Regions from separate parts of the Homo sapiens genome. Here regions 2, 3, 4 and 5 are each linked to region 1. Evidence: fine-mapped expression QTL. A gene starts in region 1. Each other region holds a variant in brackets. All regions are shown on one strand. Distances are between the middles of the regions.

Region 1 (4,130 bases):
TGTGATTTAAGCATATCCACAAAATGTACAGCACAACCTAAAGACTACTTCAAAGTCCAGTCCTGCTACTTTCTAGCTTAGACAACTGTTAAATTTTCTGAGGCTCTATTTTCTTACTTGTGAAAAAAAGGAATAGTTACTTCTCCAAGGGTTGCCAGGTGTTTTGGCTGTGAAAAGATCTAGTAGGCACAGAGTACGCTTCAATCGAGTGTACGAGTATGTGCATTTGAGACGATCCAATCTTTCCAGATGAGCTTTCCTTTCAAGTGCCTAGCTGTCTGCCCCCTACCCACCCCTCACCATCCTTGTACTGCTACGTGCCAATAAAACCACAGAACAGAGGTCACAAGCTGACTGCTCACAAGCCCAATACAGTGCACACTCAGGTTTTGTTTTAGCCCACAGGGTATCAGGTCTACACTGGTTTGTAAGGTATTCGATTTAGACACCAACAAATGAAATCAGAGGAGACATATAAAGGCAGTAGCAGTGCACAGGCTCCAGGATCTGCCCAGCTCCAGCAACCTGATGTAACATCTCCATGCCTCAGTTTCCTTGTCTATTAAGAAAAAGGTGGGGAAGAAGTAGTAGACAGACCTACTTTACTCATGGAGCCATTGTGAGTAATCAAGCTAAAACACACAGAGTGTTTAGAACAGTACATGCAAATCAGCGTTTAATGTTCTGAAGACACTGGCCCATCCCAAGATGAGGCCCATGACTCTGGCAAGCTTCCAGACACAACTGTCCCCCTGGGTGGGCCCTTTAGCTTTCCATTTCTCCATACTCCCTCTACTCCCAAGTGTCTTACACAGAGTCCAACCCATTTGTACCACCTGCCACGAGGGGACCACCTGTAGGGCTATCCTTTTGGCCTTGGACTTTGCAACTCCTGGCATTAAGAGGCAAGCAAGCAGCTCCAGTCAAAGAAATTATCATGTTCTCCCCAGTCATACTCAATAACATCTATGTGAAACACCCCACGGGGAAGTCAAGAAGCAACAAATTATCATGTTCTCCCCAGTCATACTCAATAACATCTATGTGAAACACCCCACGGGGAAGTCAAGAAGCACAAAAGGGACCCGGAACAATTAATGGGTGTTTTTGAGACTGTCAGAGTAAACAGCATCTCCTGCAATAAATCAGGGAAGTCTTGAGAGTCGCACCTTAGAGATACGGTTCCTGCCAAATCATCAATTTAATCAGCAAAATGTTTACATCTGGAGGACTCTGCAATGTGCCCTGGTAATAACCAGGCTCTAGCGGCTCCTCCTCACATCCACTTGTCCTTAAGTTTATTTACCTACCAGATCTCACTGCAGCTGAAGCTAACAAGCCTCTCTATGCACATCAGTATTCTTAGCCCCTCAATCAAAGCATCAGTGAGGACTATTGGGGCCCGCTGGGGGTCTGAAGAAGAGTCCCTCTGGCAGGGAGAAATGGCGAACTTCTCTAAACAAGCTCTGTGTCTCACAGGTCTTTGCCAAGGATCAACAGTGACTAGCAAGTCTGTGAGACAGAAAGTAAGAAAATACTCTTCATGAGGGAAATAACTGTTTGGGTATGTGTCAGTCACTACTCCATCTCCAATGTCCAGAACACTGCCTCCTACGTAGCAAGTACATATAAAGCAACTAGAATAGTAACGGGCATGTCATAAGCCAGTTATAATTATTATAACTAAATGTATAGCTATGTTTTTAAGGCAAGCTGAACTTTACTAGTTGTTACCCATAATTTGGCAATGGAACAGCCTAAGTAAATACACTTAAAATGCAGGAACCTTATAAAGTAAGCTTTTCAGCCCCTTGTCTTCTTTCTTTCTGGTTCTGAGTTATACACTTTGAAGAGGACTTTGTAGCCATCTTCTGAAAACTTCCAAATCTAATGGCACTAATAGTCAATGGGAAAGACAGTGGAGCACTGCAGGACATCACCAATTATATTACAGAGCCTGAAAGGAACTAAAAATATGAAGACTTTCAAAATAGTAACACAGCACAAACACCAAAATGTTAACACACGAGGAGTTTATCTGAAGTCCTACTTGTGATCTATTTATCAGTAATGTTCAAATATGGGAAAATTAATGTGGGAAAAATGACAATGCAACACCTCTTATCTAGAATATGTCGACATTGGTGTCAAAATACTTCTTTATTCTGTTAATTCCGCATTTCCAGGTAGCTCCAACTACCCATCTCTGCACGTTATACTGTGAAGCTGCTGACAATTTTCTGAGGGTGCTTCAGAAAGAACCATATCTTACACATCAGTTCTCCACCTCATACCACATGTTGAATTTGACAATGGCAAAGGTTAGAAAAGAAAACAGGTTTTTGCCTGGCTGTGCATCAGATGATGTAGGGATGTGGGGAAAAGTAGGAGGAGAAATAAGAAAGCAGGACTGTTTTTGCATTACTGGAGGAAAGGAACTAGCTCAGAAGTCAGCCTAACACCCACAGAGATTAAAACGTCTCTTCCTTCCTCTTTGTTTCCACGTCCCAGTCTTCAATAAATTCTATCTGACAACAGCAGCAGAGGGACCCACTATCTTGTGGTTTCTGTCAAGTTCCTGATTTTCATCCGTAGTTGAAGATGAGCAAGAACTCTGTAACAGTGTTACCTTGGAGCCTACAATGAGAGGTATTTCAAAATGAGTGAAGCATGACTCTCACAGATGAAGGCCTAGACGCAGGTAAGAAAACAGCTTTTCCATGAAATGACTTGCATGTATGTGAATGGTGCATGGGAACAGAAAAGATTTCTGAGCTGGGCAGCAACAAAGCTGAGGAACACTGAACCATTGCCACTCACATTTTTCTCAGTAGGTTACTTTTTGTTTGACAACTATAATTGGTATATTAATATATTTCCCCATGCTAATATGGGGATCCAATACTGAAATATTATCATTTATGATTTAGGATTTCCAATCGTGGCTGTCAAAATATATCTGTGATGAAGAGATATCAAGGAAAATGTTTAAAAGGTATTCATCCAGGACAAACATTTCAAAAGCTCGTAAATGTGTATTAAAATTGCTTCTCAAAACTACAAAATCGATTAGCATAATACTTAGGTCAGTATGTCTTTGTTTGCAATTGCATATGTGTACAGATATATAGTTGCATTTACTTGTACATACACTTATATAGGTAAAAGTTTTTATCTTTGTCATTATTAGGATAAGTTAACCCCATTAACACCTACTAAAATAAAATGCCTTTAAATTGTAAATCACAGAAATATCTGTCCTAGGCATAGCAAATATTTGAGTTCATATGCTACTTATTTATAGTCTATGACTAATCAGCTAAATTACTTACAATTCTTTAAACATTATAAATTAAATTACATTCAGGAGAATTAGCACAGACCCACAATGTCAGCTTATTCAACCAAGCCCATGCAATCCATCTTGTCTACATATACTTTGTTAACCAAGGACAATCAATCCTACGGAGAAAATGAATCAAAGATCACACTAGTAAAAAAATAAATAGTTTGTATATTCATCTTTCTAAAACATACAAACTTGATAATCAGTTTTAGCACTAAAAAAAAACCTAGCCATTAAGTTAAAAAGAAAACAATGCACTCGGAAAATACCAAAATGGCATATTTTATGATTTGTAAACATGCAATGAATTTTATATTTCGGTAAAATTTATGAATACTATATATACAAACATGCATACAATTGTGTGCACACAATTAACACATTGGTATATATGAATGAACTCTATATTGTCATGTCTGGAAAAAAAAAAAACAAGGAGGCCAGGCATGGTGGCTCACACCTGTAATCCCAGCACTTTGTGAGGCCAAGGTGAGTGGCCTCAGGAGAGGCTGGTCAGGAGTTCAAGACCAGCCTGGCCAACGTGGTAAAACCCCTATCTCCACTAAAAATACAAAAATTAGCTGGGTGGTAGTGGTGCATGCCTGTAATCCCAGGTACTCAGGAGGCTGAGGCAGGAGAATCGCTTGAGTCTGGGAGCCAGAGGTTGTGGTGAGCTGAGATCGGGCCACTGCACTCCAGTCTGGGCGAGAGAGTGAGACCCTGTCTCAAAAACAAAAACAAACAAAAATAAAACCAAAAGAACAGTGGGGAGATTCCAAGGTAC
Region 2 (4,000 bases), 48 kb after region 1:
TTTACTAAGGATAATGGTTTCCAGCTCCATCCATATTCCCACAAGACATGATCTCATTCTTTTTTTATGGCTGCATAGTATTCCATGGCATATATGTGCCACATTTTCTTTATCCAATCTGTCACTGATGGACATTTAAGTTGATTCCATGTCTTTGCTATTATGAAATAGTGCTGAAATGAACATTCATGTGCATGTGTCTTAATGGTAGGATGATTTCTATTCCTCTGGGTTTATACCCAGTAATGGGATGGCTGGGTCAAATGGTAGTTCTGTTTTCACACCAATCAGAATGGCTATCGTTAAAAAGTCAAAAAATAACAGATGCTGGCAAGGTTGCAGAGAAAAGAGAACACTTCCACACATTGGTGGGAGGGTAAATGAGTTCAACCATTGTGGAAAGCAACACTGTGATTGCTCAAAGAGCTACAAACAATGTTTTAAGTAAAGACTACTTTGGCATAGAGGAGTATATAGAAAGAGAAAAGAAAATGGCCAAGAATAGAACAAGAAACATCAATTTTAAGGATGGGCAGAGGAGACCCCACAGGAAAGTAAGAAGGAAAGGTAAGAAAAATAGCAGAGACACCCAGGAGACTGTTATTAGGCATTCGTTACCTGTCAGGCACGGAGCACAGGACCCTTCCCTCAAAACCAACACACACACGTGTGTGTATACATGTATATGTGCATATAGGCATGCATATATCAGCAAAAAAAGCCCATGAATACACAAGTTTATACAAACATACAAACATAACACTTTGTTTTCTTGTACTGAAGTACTTTCAAAATAAGTTGCAGGTAATCATGACCCTTCCCTTCTAAATACTTCAATAAGCATCTCTAAATACTCTCTCGCTTAACCACACCATCAATATTTCTGGGAAGATTATTACTCAGTAATATTACCTAATCTAGAATCTGTATTCAGAGTTATACAACTGTCTCAAAACAATTTGTATGGCTATTCCCTCCAGCCAACAATCACCACTCATTAACGGTGTTATTTCTCTTTGGCCTGTTTTAATCTACGACTGTCCCCTTCCAGCCCATCATGTTTGTTTCTCGTGGCATTGATTTTTTTAAAGAGTCCAAGGCTGGTTGCTTTATCAAATGTTTCATATTCTAAATTTGTCTGATTGCTCATTGAAGATTTTTGATACAGTTTATTACAAAAGTATGTTGTGTACATCTAACTAAATCATATCAGGAGGCATACGATGCCAGATTATCTCACTTTTGGTAAGTTGGATCATTCAGTGACCACCAGATCTCTCTGCTTCAGAGGTATACTTTTTATTACTCTAAATGATGGGGGAGTATGTTTTCAGACTGAAAGATACTATTCTCCCACACCCATTCACCCAGTGGCTTTTGGCCACAATTGAAGCTTATTGCCTGAATCAGTTATCACACTGAGGTTGCAAAATGGTGATGTCCTAAATTCTACCCTTCTTCTACCTTTACTAGCCAGCATTCTCCTGTAAACAAGAGCTTTCTCATTTGCATCCTACCTTTTTGTAATCTGTACTTTTAATATCACCATAAACTCCTGAATTTGTTTTGGTTTTCAATGTATTTTCACCTGTTGCTATCATTCTCATTAATGCCCAAACTGTCCCAGATCTAGGAGTGCCCTCAAGTCGGCTTCTGTGTCCTTTTTTAGCATTTCCTAATCGGTCTGAGCACTTCCTTGCTTTCTGATCAAAAGATGTCACAACTCAACTTATACTTTTCCTGTACCTGATCGGAAATCAGTAATTTCTCTTAAGGAGCCCTGTTTCCTTTCAGTGGCTAGT[G/C]AGAGTTCCAAACAAGATGAGCTCACTGACAGTGGGAAGTCACTACTTCTGCATTGGCAGGGGGGTTTCACTTTTGTTATTTAAAAATGGCTTGAGCAAGTTTACAGCTATTGGGGTGTCATGACTTACAGACATACAGATTTTATTACTTTTTTTTATTAAGGACTTTGAGCAGGTTTAAAGTTTGAAGGGAAGTAGCCCTTAGAAAGAGACGTTGAAAATAGAAAAGAGAAAAGCAATAACACATAGAGTTCAAAGAAACATTAGAAGGAAGTGGAAGTGCATTCAAAAAAAAAAAAAAAGCGTGGAGTAAAACAAAACTAGTCCTGGCACGTTTCACAGTCCAAGGATGTCAATGAGCATCAAAGTGTAGTGTATAGTATAACGAGAAAGGAGTGTTTATCAGAATTTTTTTACATACAGGTATTATACCTGAGGCAATAATGAAATGGCATCTAACAGCTCCCCTGGGGCAGGGCAAGACATAAGACTATTTTCTTACACTGTACTTGACTGACTTCTATTGAAATTCATGGGAAAGGTGAAATATCACAAGTGGAATGTTCTAAAACAGACACGCATATTCAAGAACAGATCCCGGCCGGGTGCGGTGGCTCACGCCTGTAATCCCAGCACTTTAGGAGGCCGAGACTTGCGGATCACAAGGTCAGGAGATCAAGACAATCCTGGCTAACACGGTGAAATCCCGTCTCTACTAAAAATGCAAAAACAAAAATTAGCCAGGCGTGGTGGCGGGCACCTGTAGTCCCAGCTACTTGGGAGGCAGAGGCGGGAGAATGGCGTGAACCCAGCAGGCGAAGCTTGCAGTGAGCTGAGATCGCACCACTGCACTCCAGCCTGGGCAACAGAGCGAGACTCCATATCCAAAACAAAAACAAAAAACAAAAAAACAGATCCCAACATGTGAGCCTAGGACTCATAAAAAGTAAAGGTCTTTGATTTCAAATACAACTTGAACAACATCTTCAAGCTGCATAAAAGTGCATCTTTCACCCTTAAGTCCTACTAAGTTTGCAACTAATACAGTTGCTCCATTGTTGCATGCTCTAGTTAATAAAACACAAATTCGTTTAAGAATTGCTCAGTTCGCCTGGCGCAGTGGCTCATGCCTGTAATCCCAGCACTTTGGGAGGCCGAGGCAGGCGGATCACGAGGTCAGGAGATTGAGACCACGATGAAACCCCATCTCTACTAAAAATACAAAAATAAGCCAGGCATGGTGGTGGGCGCCTGTAGTCCCAGCTACTAGGGAGGCTGAGGCAGGAAAATGGCATGAACCCGGGAGGCGGATCTTGCAGTGAGCCAAGATCGTGCCACTGCACTCCAGCCTGGGCGACAAAGTGAGACTCCGTCTCAAAAAAAAAAAAAAAAAAAAAAATTAGCCGGGCATGGTGGCACGAGCCTGTAGTCCCAGCTACTCGGGAGGCTGACGCAGGAGAATCGCTTGAACCCGGGAGGCGAGGTTGCAGTGAGCGGAGATCACGAAACTGCCCTCCAGCCTGAGCAACAGAGCAAGACTCCATCTCAAAAAAAAAAAAAAAAAAAAGAATTGCTGAATTTATAAGTTATTACCACAGTATGTTTTATTAAAATCAAAGAACCCTCTAACAGGGATTAATACACAAAACAGGGAGGAAACATACAACACTTTGGGTTAGAGAGTATATGGGAATCACTTCTGTACAGTATTTCTACTCCCACTTAAAATTCTGGATATTTATATTCTTTTCCTTTGGCTATATAAGCCTGAATCTTGAACAAACACACAAGTGGTTGATATTCAGCTAAGCAGTTAAAGCTGTTGTTTTCTCACACATGGAAATTTGTCTTCATCTTCACAGCAAAGGATAACCACTAATGGTCTAACAGCCCCATGATCTGCAGATCTGAGTACTGCTTGCCTGAGAAATGCAAATACCATCTCAGTGAGGCGAAAAGAGGTCATGGATTCATTTCCTTGCCTGGCCCCAGGGAATAGGACCACATATTCCAAAACAATGCTGCAGAAGAACAGGCTGGAAAAAATTCAGTAATTCAGGCAGCTCAACCTAGTTCCAGGAGAAAAAAGAATTGGTTCCCAAAACCCTGAAGCCAGGAGTGATGCAGAGCTTTGTGCCACTCTCATGAAAGATTAGCATTGTGTAGGGACTGGTAAATTAGAACTGAAACACTCTGGA
Region 3 (4,152 bases), 300 kb after region 1:
TATTAATTCATGTGTGTTCTCCCTTCTCTACATGTCTGATTCCTTTATATCTCCCCTGGGGGTTGGAGGCAGAAAGAGTCAGATCTAAGCAGGACACACATTGCTGCCTGCCAATTTGCTAAAGGTCACTGTAGTCTAGGAAAGTAAAAAGGAGGAAGGCACCCAGTAGTCAGAAGGGAGAGTATTGGGAAACTAAGCTGGAGCTAGAGTGGAAGTCAAGTGCCAGATGATTTTACCCAGTTGTGCTGCTATCCAGTCCTTCTCGTGGCCAGCTAGTGAGGCCCGCCACCAGACAGCAGCCTTGACCAACAGCATCCCAGCTTGTCTGTGCTCCAGGACCCAGTTCAGCCCTCCCTACTCCTTCTGCTTCTCTCCATGAAGTCAATCCCAGGAAGTTCAGCAGCCCGGTACTCTTATGGTTCCTCCAGGATAAGAGGGTGGGGCCCTGAACACCTTTAGTGACAGTATAAAAGGGCAATATTCATCCCTGATGAAGGAAGGACCAGACAAGGCCAGCTTGATTGAAAGCTCCCACTAAGCTAGGGCAGTGTTGGCCACAGAGACCTTGTGACTCCGGACGGTTGATACCAATATATATATGTACCTCACATAGGGTCTGAGTAGCTACCACCTGTCCCTTCACTAGGCAGCCATCACAGTTTGTTTCACCTAGTGCCCTGGACCAAGAGCCAGATGGTGGGGAGAGCTGAAAATCAGTGCCTCCCAGAAGCTTTTTTTAGAATGCACACAAAGAGGAAAAAGACAAAACAAGTAAAAGACAAAGAGAACTTTGAAAACAGAGAACTGCACTTGACTGCCGGGAAGGAGAATGGTGACAGCTGGAGAAAAACTGAACAATAAATTTGGGCACTATAGGGCAGTTCAAGGCTTTATTGGTGGGGAAAAAAAATTGCTTCCTTCTCAATTTTTGCAGACTGGCTTCCAGTGATTTGACTTGCGTCTCTTAATATTACTTTTACATTTTCAGGAGACACAATCTGGTTGATTTAGATGTCTAATCCTAATCAAAGTAGGCTAGAGAGGGTGGGTCACATTGTTCAAATGTGGCTGTCACAGAGTTTATATCTGTGGTGCGTGCCTGTAGTCCCAGCTACTTGAGAGGCTGAGGCAGGAGAATCACTTAAGCCCAGGAGTTCAAGACTAGCCTGAAAATATAGTGAGACCCTGTCTTAAAACAAACAAACAAAAAAAAGTTGGTAATCACCAAATCAAACTACCCCAAAATGTACTATTTTAGCACATCTATCCTAAGTTATATCAATGAGGACAATTATTATCTGTTTCCCTGTGCTAGGAATGTGGTTTGCCTATTATCGTTAAAGGATGTGTCTTAAACTATGCCTTCTTTCTTCACCTCTTCAGGTTAGGTAACTTTTTCCTCCTTTCTGTAGGAGCTCAGACATTCTGCTGGGTGAAGCTTAAGTATCAACATAGCCTTAATGTGAGATACCAACAAGAAACCCAGACAAATCCGAAGGTGTCACACTGGATCTTTTTTTTTTTTTTTTGAGACGGAGTCTTGCTCTGTCGCCCAGGCTGGAGTGCAGTGGCGCGATCTCGGCTCACTCTAAGCTCTGCCTCCCGGGTTCACGCCATTCTCCTGCCTCAGCCTCCCGAGTAGCTGGGACTACAGGCGTCCGCCACCACGCCCGGCTAATTTTTTTTGTATTTTTAGTAGAGACGGGGTTTCACCATGTTAGCCAGGATGGTCTCGATCTCCTGACCTCGTGATCCACCCTCCTCGGCCTCCCAAAGTGCTAGGATTACAGGCGTGAGCCACTGCGCCCGGCCACGAGATCTTATTTAACAGACAGCATGGGCAGCAACTTTACTCCACTCCCTGGTTCCTCTCTGTGGCTTTTGTGTCAGAAGCACAATTCTTTCACTTATTCTAAATGTCTCCACAACCATCATCAGCCCCAAAAATCCCTGTACTGAATTCTCTCCTCTCAGTCCAAATCCACTGCGGGTTCATCTGTATTCCAAGAGAACTTTGTTTTCTTTTTCTTCCTTTCCCTCAATCCTTTTAATCCTCTAGTTCAAGCAATTAGCTCTACAAATATTAGCTGCAATCAAGGTCTAGCACATGTGGTAATTTTCTCTCTAATAAATCAATCAATTCTTTCCATGGAGTGTTTTTTTCCTTTACAGTCATTAGAAAATTACAATGCTACTTGAGGATCACCAGCAACTTGAATTAGTCAAGGCACGTCAATCAAATTT[G/A]CCAGATTTTGCTTTAAAGATGAGAAAAATGGGGTAGATTTACAAAGGCCTCTTGTCTTAGAATAGGAAGCTTGATAGACCCTTGTTGAATCTCTCTTAGAGAGGCCTTGGAGTATAATGATCCATTTGGAGGAAAATCAAAATCAGTACTACCAGTGACAAATCAGACAAAACATAGAACCTCTCATTAAATAATCTAAAAATTAATAATTGGAATAATCAGCCATGCAGTGTCCCTGGGCAATGCAATATTCCGTAATAGCTAACAGGTTAGCACAGCAAAGAAAAAAGAGACATAATCTAGCAAATGGCCAAACTGTAGTTCTATGGCTTATTAAATTTTTTTTTCTTTAGTTAAATGGGAACTAAAGGAGCCAAACTGTGCTTCTCGAAGCTGTCTTTCACGTTGGGGATAGGACACTGTAGGGAGTAGGGAGCTGGGGAGCCCAGTGACAACTCCTTGATCACCCACCCTCCCAGTATAGCAGCTCGATTTTTGTCTTATTTCACACAAGTTGTGTTGAGGCAATGGTTTTTCTTCTTAAAAATGATTTGAGAATCACCTATGCAGCCCAGACCACTCTTTTCATAAATATGTAAAATTAATGCCAGAGAAGGAATTCTTAATTTAGCCATACAGCTGGAAATAGACCCTGGACAGGATCTTCCCATGCCATGCTATACTGTCTCTTATACTTGGCGAACAAACCAGGTGAGAATTTGCATCCCTTTGTAATGGGGCTGCTTTTTTTCTTTTGTTTTCAAATGGTTATAAGGAAAAACTGATGCAGCCAAGTTAGTGTGAGAAGAGGCACAAATGCTACACTGGAAGTGAAAACAGAGTCTGCAATTGTGCTCCTTTCTCTACAGAATCTCTAGTCACTCTGAAGAATTATATCATTATCCAGCACCTGAAAGGGGTCAGAGGAGGGGGAGGCCTAGTTCCATTTTCTTATGTCACCGAATGTATTCCTATTAAGATTGAGAGAAGTAAAGATTTCAGCAGGATACTTGGTGAAAACTTGCTGACATTAATGACTCAAATTCTCAGAGAGACTGCAAGGAAAATGGTGTCATCACTGTCATTCAAGACATTTAAGATGAAATTTCAAAAGAAGGCTGTCAGGCATAATGACTGCCAGGTTCCATTATATCATTCTCAGAGGGTGGATCACACACACTACTACGCAGCCTGTGGGTGGCTGATGCTGAAGTTTGAAAGGAAGCTGCATGGAGAAGAGGTGAGGGGGGCTGCCTCACATGAACAGGATACAGCACCATTGATATTCATATGGTGATTTGGGGGTAAATCTATGAATCGGGGCCTGGTCTTTTGTTGTGGATATGCTGAAACCTAGTGCTGAAAAAATGTAGGAAAGTTTGAGCTGTAAATGGTAGTGCCTATTTATTAATTTGCTATGAGCATATTCCTCTCTAGCGACCCAGATGCTCATGTCTGTGTGCATTCCAGCACTGAGATGCCTGCAAAGCCTAGTTTGTAATCAGTAGATAGCCATGTGAAAAGGAGATAAGGGCAGTGGCTTCCAACCTTGGCTGCACAATGCAATCACCTGGGGTGATTCGACGCTAAGGCCATACTCTAAAATCAAATAAATCTGAATCTCAGGGATGAGGACACAGACATCAGTACTTTTAAAATCTTCTCAAGTGATTCTAATGAGCAGCAAAACTGAGAACCACCGTGTCAAAGCAAAGGGTGAGGTTTTAGGCCTCAAAGGGTGAGTCTCACCCTTTCCACTCAGGGATCTTTTATGTCATAGAGCAGTGGGTTTGATTTGGTTTTGTTTTAAATCAGGAGTAGACATAGGTTTGCCAGTTTCTAAATTTGTCAAATAAAATCATTAAAAATTCAACTACCATTATCTCATTAAAGAAAGAAAATTTCAA
Region 4 (4,152 bases), 290 kb after region 1:
ATTTAGGAAGAAAACCCACAGAGTTCAATTACTGATCAGGCATGAGGAGTGAAGGAAAAAGAAATGGTGTGCCTACTTCCCTGGTTTCTGAGCTGGGAGACCAGGTGGCTGGTAAAGGCTGCTGCCTTTTTTCTGCAATTAATACATTTAGGTTATAAACAGTTCAATAATACAGAAGCAGATGAAATAATAAGCGAAAGTTCCCTTCTGGTTTTTCTCCTTCACATTCAACGCCATTCCCCAAGGCATAGCCACTATTAATATTTTGGCATATTCCTCCAAGTGTCTTTCCATGCCTATACTGAACTCAATTAGTTTCTCAAACTCAAAGAGTAATTCTACTGCAAAGACATCCGGCCAAATCTTTGAAATTCCTAAAGAAGATGTTTGCACTTGACCATGTGTATCACAATGTTGGGCAAAGCCTTGGGCAAGAGGATAGTTTCAGCAATGAGGCTTCTTCCAGGAACCACACCTCTGAGAGTTCATTGTGGGCTACATCATAGATTCAGCCCTGTTCAGTACAGTTATTTGTAGGACCAAAAAAATGCTACATGGTGCCCAAGTGTAACACACCAGTAATTAAATTGATAAATCTTCTTTATTACCAATTCTTCTATAATATAGGTACATTCATGCCCCCAAGATAATCATAAAATATATTTTCTTTGGTATTCAATGCCCTGGAAATGCCAACAGAATTGTGTCTGTATGTACATCAGCTTTTAGTTGGAAAATTAGCTATGGAAAATTTACTCTCTCCTCTGACCTGGAAAATATTACTCCTACAAATTAAAGATAAGGCAAATGTCATAAGGATGTGAGGAGATAACTTTGATGAGATAAGAAACTGCAGTTGAATGAGATCCTACATGCATACTCACAATACATTAAAGCCGCTCAAATTTTCAAAGAAAAAATGTCTGCCTTTTTTCTGGAGCTAAAATTAATCATATTGCATACACTAAATTGTGAGTATTCCTACAGGGAATTCATTGGTTGGAAGTTACTACCAAGGACTAAAATGGAATAAAATAGCCCCACTTAAGAACTATAAATCTTTCTAAAGTTAAGTATTTCAGAGAGAACCTGTGTGAAAAGATATATTAGAATGGTAACTAAGCATACTAGGATATTGAGCAAGAAATTGTCAAAAATTTAAGTCTTATGTTTAATGTTTTAAAATTTGGTATAAAAATAGGAACCAATATGTAGCAAGTGTTAATTCTTGGTCCAGCAGTTTTCTTAAAACATCCTTGATATTTTAACTGTTTCTGGTGAGGCATCTCCCCAGTTCAGAAAGTAATTATAATTTAAATAAAAATTATTATAATAAAGAATAGCTAACATTTATTAAGCATTTATTATATGCTAAGCACTATTTCAAGGTATTTATATTATTCCATTTCATCCTCACAGCACATTATTATCACTCATTTTAAACATATGACTACTCCTGACTTTTAGAATTATTGGAGACTAAAGATCTGCTTATTTAGGGTGTTGTTTGGAGGTGACAAAAGATTCAGTGGTTTCAAAAACTTTTGTGCAAGGAGGGCATTCTGGGAAGATGACAAAGTAGGAAGCAACAGGAATTTGTCTGCCCACCTAGAAACAATTTCACTGGCAAAATCTGTCGGATGTAGCTATT[G/T]AGGAACTCTGGAGTCTGTTGAAAATTTGCAATGTCTAGGGAAGGCTTAGTAAATTGTGGTTAACTGTGGTCAATTTCAGCTCTTACTGCAGTAGCAGCTATCCTTCCTTCACCCCCAGCCCCATGGTATGCAGGTATGTACTTGTTCCCGAAGCAGCTTTTACACAGTTTGTGGGAGCCAGGGGACCCTGACCTCCAAATGCTGGGGATTTGTGCATTTGTGCTCTGCTCACTGATTGCAGCTTCTTCTTCTGTTTTTTGTTTGTTTTGTTTTGTTTTGAATAACCTGTGTGTGGATTTTTTTTTTTTTTTTAAACCAGGTCTTGCTCCATCACCCAGGCTGGAGCACAGTTGTGCGATCATAACTCACTGCAGCCTGGAACCTCTGGGCTCAGGAAATTCTCCCACTTCAGCCTCCCAAGTAGCTAGGACTACAAGCATGTACCAACACACCCAGCTAATTTTTAAAATTCTTTTAGAGACAAGGTCTCACTATGTTGCCTAGGCTGGTCTTGAACTACTGGCCCCAACGGATCCTCCCATCTCAGCTTCCCAAAGTACTCAGATTACAGGCATGAGCCACTGTGCCCAGCCATCACTGATTGCAGCTTCTGATCACAGAGGCGCAGACAAACACATAGTTGGCCATTGTTGCTGCATCTCTCCCACTGTGGCAAGCCCCTCCCTGTCCAGCTGAAGTGACTTCCAAAGGAGTAAATGGCTGGCACCACTCTCCACATCCTTAGTTTTCTCTTTTTTCCCTTTTGGGAGGCAGACATTGAAGACTAGGACATTCAAAAGCAACTGCATATACATTAGCAATTAGAACAAATGTTCATGCCCAGAGAAAGACAGGCTCAGAAAAGACCTGAGAAGACCTTAATTTTACACCTCAGGCTTATCCTTGGCGCAGAAACAACCTACCTAAAACAATTTTTAAAAAAATAAAAAAAAATGAAAATAGTATAACCTGGGAAAGGGAAAGAATATGATTTCCAGAGTTACTGCATTATTAGATTTAAATGTCTGGTTTTTGATAAAAAAAATTATAAGGCATACACAAAGAAACAGGAAAATATAGTCCATTCAAAGGAAGAAATAAATAAACAAAACAGCCCCTGAAAAAGATCTGATGGTCTCTGGGCACAGTGCCTCATGCCTGTAATCCCAGCACTTTGGGAGGTCGAGGCAGGCAGATCACTTGAGGCCAGGAGTTCGAGACCAGCCTGGTCAACATGGTGAAACCCCATCTCTACTAAAAATACAAAACTTAGCCAGGTGTGCTGGTGCACACCTCTAGTCCCAGCTACTTGGGAGGCTGAAACACGAGAATCCCTTGAACCCAGGAGGTGGAGGTTGCAGTGAGCTGAGATCATGCCACTGTACTCCAGCCTGGGTGACAGAGTGAGACTCTGTCTCTAAATAAATAAATAAATAAATAAATAAATAAATAATTCTGATGGTAGATCTAGTTGACAAAAACCCTTAAAATTATTGTCTTAAAGATGCCCAAATAATTAAAGGGAGATATGGAGAAAGTCAAGAAGACAATATTTGAACAAAGTGGAAATAGCCATAAAGAAACAGAAAACCTACAAAGAAACCAATAAGAAATTCTGGAGCTGAAATGTACAATAAGTGAAATAAAAATTCACTAGAAGGATTCAAAGGCAGATTTGAGCAGGTTAAAGAAAGAGTCTATGAACCTGAACATAGAACAATGGAAATGATCATGTCTGAGAAACAGAAAGAAAAAAGATTAACAAAAAGTGAGCAGAGCCTAAGGGGCCTGTTGAACACCACCAATATACATACTGTGAGAAAAGGAGAAGAGGGTAGAGGAAACAGTTAAAGAAATAATGGTGGAAACTTTACAAATATGATGAAGAATATAAACATAAATGCCAAGGAGTTCAAATAACTCCAAGTAAAATAAACTCAAAGAGACTCACACAGAGACAGATTATATATAATCAAACTTTCAAAAGACAAAGAGGGACTCATGAAAGCAGAAAGAGAGAAATAATTCATCATATGCAAGAAATCTTCAATAAGATTATCAGCAGATTTCTCATCAGAAGCTTTGGAGGCTAAAAGGCTGATATATCCAAAGTTCGAAAAGAAAAGAAAAAAAACTGTCAACCAAGATTCCTATATCTGGCAAAACTGTCCTTCAAAGTGAAGGAGAAATTAAGATATTCCCAGATAAAACAAAAGATGAGGGAGTTTGTCATCACTAGCCCTGCCCTGTAAGACATGTTCAAGGGAGTAAGGCACGGTAAAATAAAAGGACACTAGACAGTAACTCACAATCTTATAAATAAATAAGAATCTCAATAAAGGTACACACGCATGCAATTATAAAAGTCAATATTATCATAACAACAGTTTGTAATACTACCTTTTGTTTTCTATATGGTTTAAGAGACTAACACATTGAAAAAAACAATTATTAGTTTAAAAGCTAGGATTTTTGTAACTTTGGTTTGTAACTCCACATT
Region 5 (4,152 bases), 41 kb after region 1:
TTTCATATATTTTTAAATTTAATTACTCTTCATAAAATGTGGTGTCCTTTTTTGATATTTATAGACAGTCCAGTATAATACATATATTTAATAGCTTAAGAGCTGGAGTGCTAAAACAAGCAAACTAACAACCATAACAAAATCTCTTATCAGAAAATATAGATAAATGTATTTTAGCCAAGAATTCTCAAATTTTTGGTCTCAGGATCCCTTTTACTCTTAAAAAATTACTGAGGACCTCAAAGAGCTTTTGTGTATACCTATCCATACTTATTATTTTAGAAATTAAAATTGTGACAGTTATAAAACTTTTAAATAGCAGGTTAACACAAGTAACATTTTTATGAAAAATATTTTCAAAAAAATTTATGTCAACAAGTCATGTTATTCTACATTTTTGCAAATCTCTTTAACATCTGGCCTAGAGAAGACAGTTGGATTCTCATATCCACTTCCATGTCCAATCTCTTGCAAAATGTTTAGGTTAAAAGTATGTTGAAGAAAATCCAATCCCATACAGATAAATAATGGCCTTCTGGATTTTCTTCTTTGACAGCACAAAACTCAACAGGTGGTTTTTTAAAGCATGATTGCAATATTGGATCTAAAACCATGTCAATGAATATTTTATACTTTGTAACACTGAAATCTTTTGGTCTTGACCTTTAAGTCTATGTGTTTTACTTATGCCCAATTTTATAACATCATACATTGGTCATGTAGATAAAATACATTCATGCAGAAATTTGTAAATATAAACACTTTTCATTCTACAGTACCAAAAAATCATACTAATTAATATTGCCCCTCCTCACAGTGTCAATACCGGAAAGCTACGAAACTCACAACAGCAGACAGAAGCTTTCCAAAATTCTGCTTTCAGTTTGAAAGCTTGAATTTTATCATTGTCAAAAATTGTCTCTCAGTTCATTCAGTTTTGAGAAAATGTTTGCCAAACACCCAAGTACAATTATTAGTTTGTCATTCGATCAAGTAAAAATGGTGTTCCATGAAAAATGCATCTAATTCAGCTTATAACTCAATTATACAAGTGTTCATTCCTCTAGACAATCATAAGTAGCAAATGTACTTTATACATAATTAATATTTTGGCACACAAAATATTAAAAAGATATTTTTATGGTTGAGATTTAATAAAAACTAGTATTGCTTTATTAAGCAATTGGTAAAACTGATTTTTCTTTTCTTGTTTAAGATTGTATGTCAGTAAGGTATAAAATGCAATGAACAGTTGAGTGCACTGCCTTGATTTGTGCTAAGACACCTGAACATTTTACACATCATGGCTTTTGCACCATCAGTGCAAATTTCAGCACGATGAAAATAGCAACATCTTAGTACTCTTATAAAGATGGATTTGATTTCATAGTGTCTCTGAAAGGGTGTCAGGAACCCCTGTGGTTCTGCAGACCACATTTTAAAAACCACTGTTCCAGGCTGGGCGCGGTGGCTCACGCCTGTAATCCCAGCACTTTGGGAGGCTGAGGCGGGTGGATCACCTGAGGTCAGGAGTTCGAGACCAGCCTGACCAACAAGGTGAAACCCCGTCTCTACTAAAAATGCAAAAATTAGCCGGCCAAGGTGGCAGGTGCCTGTAGTCCCAGCTACTTGGGAGGCTGGGACAGGAGAATTGCTTGAACCTGGGAGGCGGAGGATGCAGTGAGCCAAGATAGTGCCACTGCACTCCAGCCTGGGTGACAGAGCGAGACTCCATCTCAAGAAAAAAGAAAAAGAAAAAGAAAAAAGAAAAAATG[T/C]GCACTGTTCTAAACTTTAGGACAGAAAAGTTTTAAGATACAAAAAGCACTAGTTAGAAAAGAAAAAAACGATAATTTGATCCTTAAAATTGGTAAATTTTGCTTCTTGAAATATAACTTTAAAAGTGAAAACAGTAAGTCACAATCTAGAAAGCCTATTTATAGTAGAGACACCAAACAAAATATCAACAATATTCAAAGAAGTCTACAAATCAGTAACAGCATAAACAACCCAACAGAAAAATAAGCAAAAAATGTGACTAGACATTTCATAGAAATACCAGTGATCATATGAAGAGATGCCCATATCATTTGAGATCACTGTACAAATGAAGACTACAATATAATAACATTTCATAAGAAAAAAATTTTTAATCTGAAAAGATAAAACGTCAGAGAGGACTGATATCCACAGGATCACTACACATCATTGGTAGGAATATAAACTAGTGTAACTTCTTTGGAAAACAGTTTGGCGGCTGGGCGCAGTGGCTCACACCTGTAATCCCAGCACTTTGGGAGGCCGAGGCGGGCAGATCACCTGAGGTCAGGAGTTCGAGACCAGCCTGGCCAACATGGTGAAACCCCATCTCCACTAAAAATACAAAAAATTAGCCAGGCATGGTGGCGGGCACCTGTAGTCCCAGCTACTTGGGAGGCGGAGGCAGGAGAATCGCTTGAACCCAGGAGGTGGAGGTTGCAGTGAGCCAAGATCGTGCCACCACACTCCAGCTTGGGCGACAAGAGTAAGACTCTGTCTCAAAAAAAAAAAAAAAAGAAAAAAAAAAAAAGCCAGGCGTGGTGGCTCACGCCTGTAATCCCAGCACTTTGGGAGGCTGAGGCAGGTGGATCACAAGGTCAGGTGTTCAAGACCAGCCTGGCCAACACAGTGAAACCCCGTCTCTACTAAAAATACAAAAAATTAGCTGGGCGTGGTGGCATGCACCTGTAGTCCCAGCTACTATGGAGGCTGAGGCAGAATCGCTTGAACCTGGGAAACGGAGGTTGCAGTTAGCCGAGACTGGTACTCCAGCCTGGGCAACAGAGCGAGATTCCGTCTCAAAAAAAAAAAAAAAAAAAAAGTTTGGCATCACTTCCTGAAGTTTAACATTCATGCTGTCCTTGACTCAGCAATTTAACTCCTAGGTTTATATCCACGAGAAATTTTCAAATGTCCATCAATAGGCAACAAAGATATGCATCTCGGCATGACTCACAATGGCAAAAACCTGGAAATACCCCAAATACAAGAAACTGAATTAACTATGATATGGTCACACAGCAGAATGCTATACAGTAACCAAAACAAAATTAATTATAGCAATACTTAATAACATGGATGTGTACGATATATATGAAATCAAATTTTATATATTTATGTCAGTAAAATATATAGAAAAATCATGAAGAGATTACATACAGTTTTAAAATCATAACTTCATTCACACACACTTTTAGGAATACATATAGATGTTACAAAAATTTGTAAAACAGGAAAAGTGAAAGATTGAAGAACACATGACTCAGGTAATGTGGAATAAAAGTATCCAGAGAGATGGCATGGGGGTGGGAGGATGGACCATTTAGACAAGAGCAGCTGCTTACTGTCAAGGTCTTGGCTTTCGTTTTGGTTACTGAGTCTGAAGGAGATTATTAACATCGTTAAGAATAACAAAATAAATCTGTAAAAAGTCATCCTTGCTTGAATGCTGCATAACAAGAATGCTTCCTGAATCAAGAATTATGATTATTCTAATTCTGTGATCCAGAGATTTAAAAGGATATCTATATATGTTAATCTACTATGCACATTGAAGTGGCAATTCAAAATATAAAAGTACATTTTAAAACTCTAGAAGTGCTGAACAAACTCATCATTTGACAGTTAAGGAAATCCTTAATTTGACCAAAGTTGTATAAGTAAGTTCATTCTGAAATTCCATAAATATTCATTGAGCTTCTAACTGTAGAGCAAGCTCTATTCTGGGACCTCCTAATTTTGCCGTTAACAAGAGAAATAAATTCTGGTCTGGCAAAGCTTACCTTTAAGAAGGGCTGTATGTAAGAATAGGGGGAGAGGAGAATAAGTTAAAAAATATTAGATTGGTGCAAAAGTAATTGCAGTTTTTGCCATTGAAAGTCATCACAAAAACCACAATTACTTTTGCACCAACCTAATATTTTAAACAACAAAGGGAGACAAGAGAAAACAAACGTGGTAAGAGGCTAGAGAATGCGACATAGGGGGAATGGCTATGTTAGATGCCATGAACAGGAAAGGCCTTGCTGAGAAGGTGACATTTTAACAGAGACCAGCATGTGGCAGCCACACAAAGGTACCAGAGACTGACAATCACAGGCAGAAGCCAGCTCCAAG

What was found.
Region 2: its variant is fine-mapped to the expression of P2RY14 in whole blood (TOPMed, PIP 0.98).
Region 3: its variant is fine-mapped to the expression of P2RY14 in whole blood (TOPMed, PIP above 0.99).
Region 4: its variant is fine-mapped to the expression of P2RY14 in whole blood (TOPMed, PIP above 0.99).
Region 5: its variant is fine-mapped to the expression of P2RY14 in esophagus mucosa (GTEx, PIP 0.97).

Annotation. Positions count from the first base shown.
Region 1 is chr3:151,276,858-151,280,987 of GRCh38, reverse strand. P2RY14 (purinergic receptor P2Y14) reads left to right here and starts at 2,446. Exons shown (of 3, transcript NM_014879.4): 1 at 2,446-2,701. All of the region lies in intron 16 of MED12L (mediator complex subunit 12L), which reads right to left.
Region 2 is chr3:151,228,675-151,232,674 of GRCh38, reverse strand. All of the region lies in intron 16 of MED12L (mediator complex subunit 12L), which reads right to left. The region is part of intron 1 of P2RY14 (purinergic receptor P2Y14); the gene reads left to right. Among named protein-coding and RNA genes, the nearest start is that of GPR171, 27 kb to the right of the region's middle. The variant G/C (reference allele first, on the strand shown) is at 1,803.
Region 3 is chr3:150,975,413-150,979,564 of GRCh38, reverse strand. The region is part of intron 1 of CLRN1-AS1 (CLRN1 antisense RNA 1); the gene reads right to left. Among named protein-coding and RNA genes, the nearest start is that of CLRN1, 4.8 kb to the right of the region's middle. The variant G/A (reference allele first, on the strand shown) is at 2,245.
Region 4 is chr3:150,987,535-150,991,686 of GRCh38, reverse strand. The region is part of intron 1 of CLRN1-AS1 (CLRN1 antisense RNA 1); the gene reads right to left. Among named protein-coding and RNA genes, the nearest start is that of CLRN1, 17 kb to the right of the region's middle. The variant G/T (reference allele first, on the strand shown) is at 1,652.
Region 5 is chr3:151,235,751-151,239,902 of GRCh38, reverse strand. All of the region lies in intron 16 of MED12L (mediator complex subunit 12L), which reads right to left. All of the region lies in intron 1 of P2RY14 (purinergic receptor P2Y14), which reads left to right. Among named protein-coding and RNA genes, the nearest start is that of GPR171, 35 kb to the right of the region's middle. The variant T/C (reference allele first, on the strand shown) is at 1,776.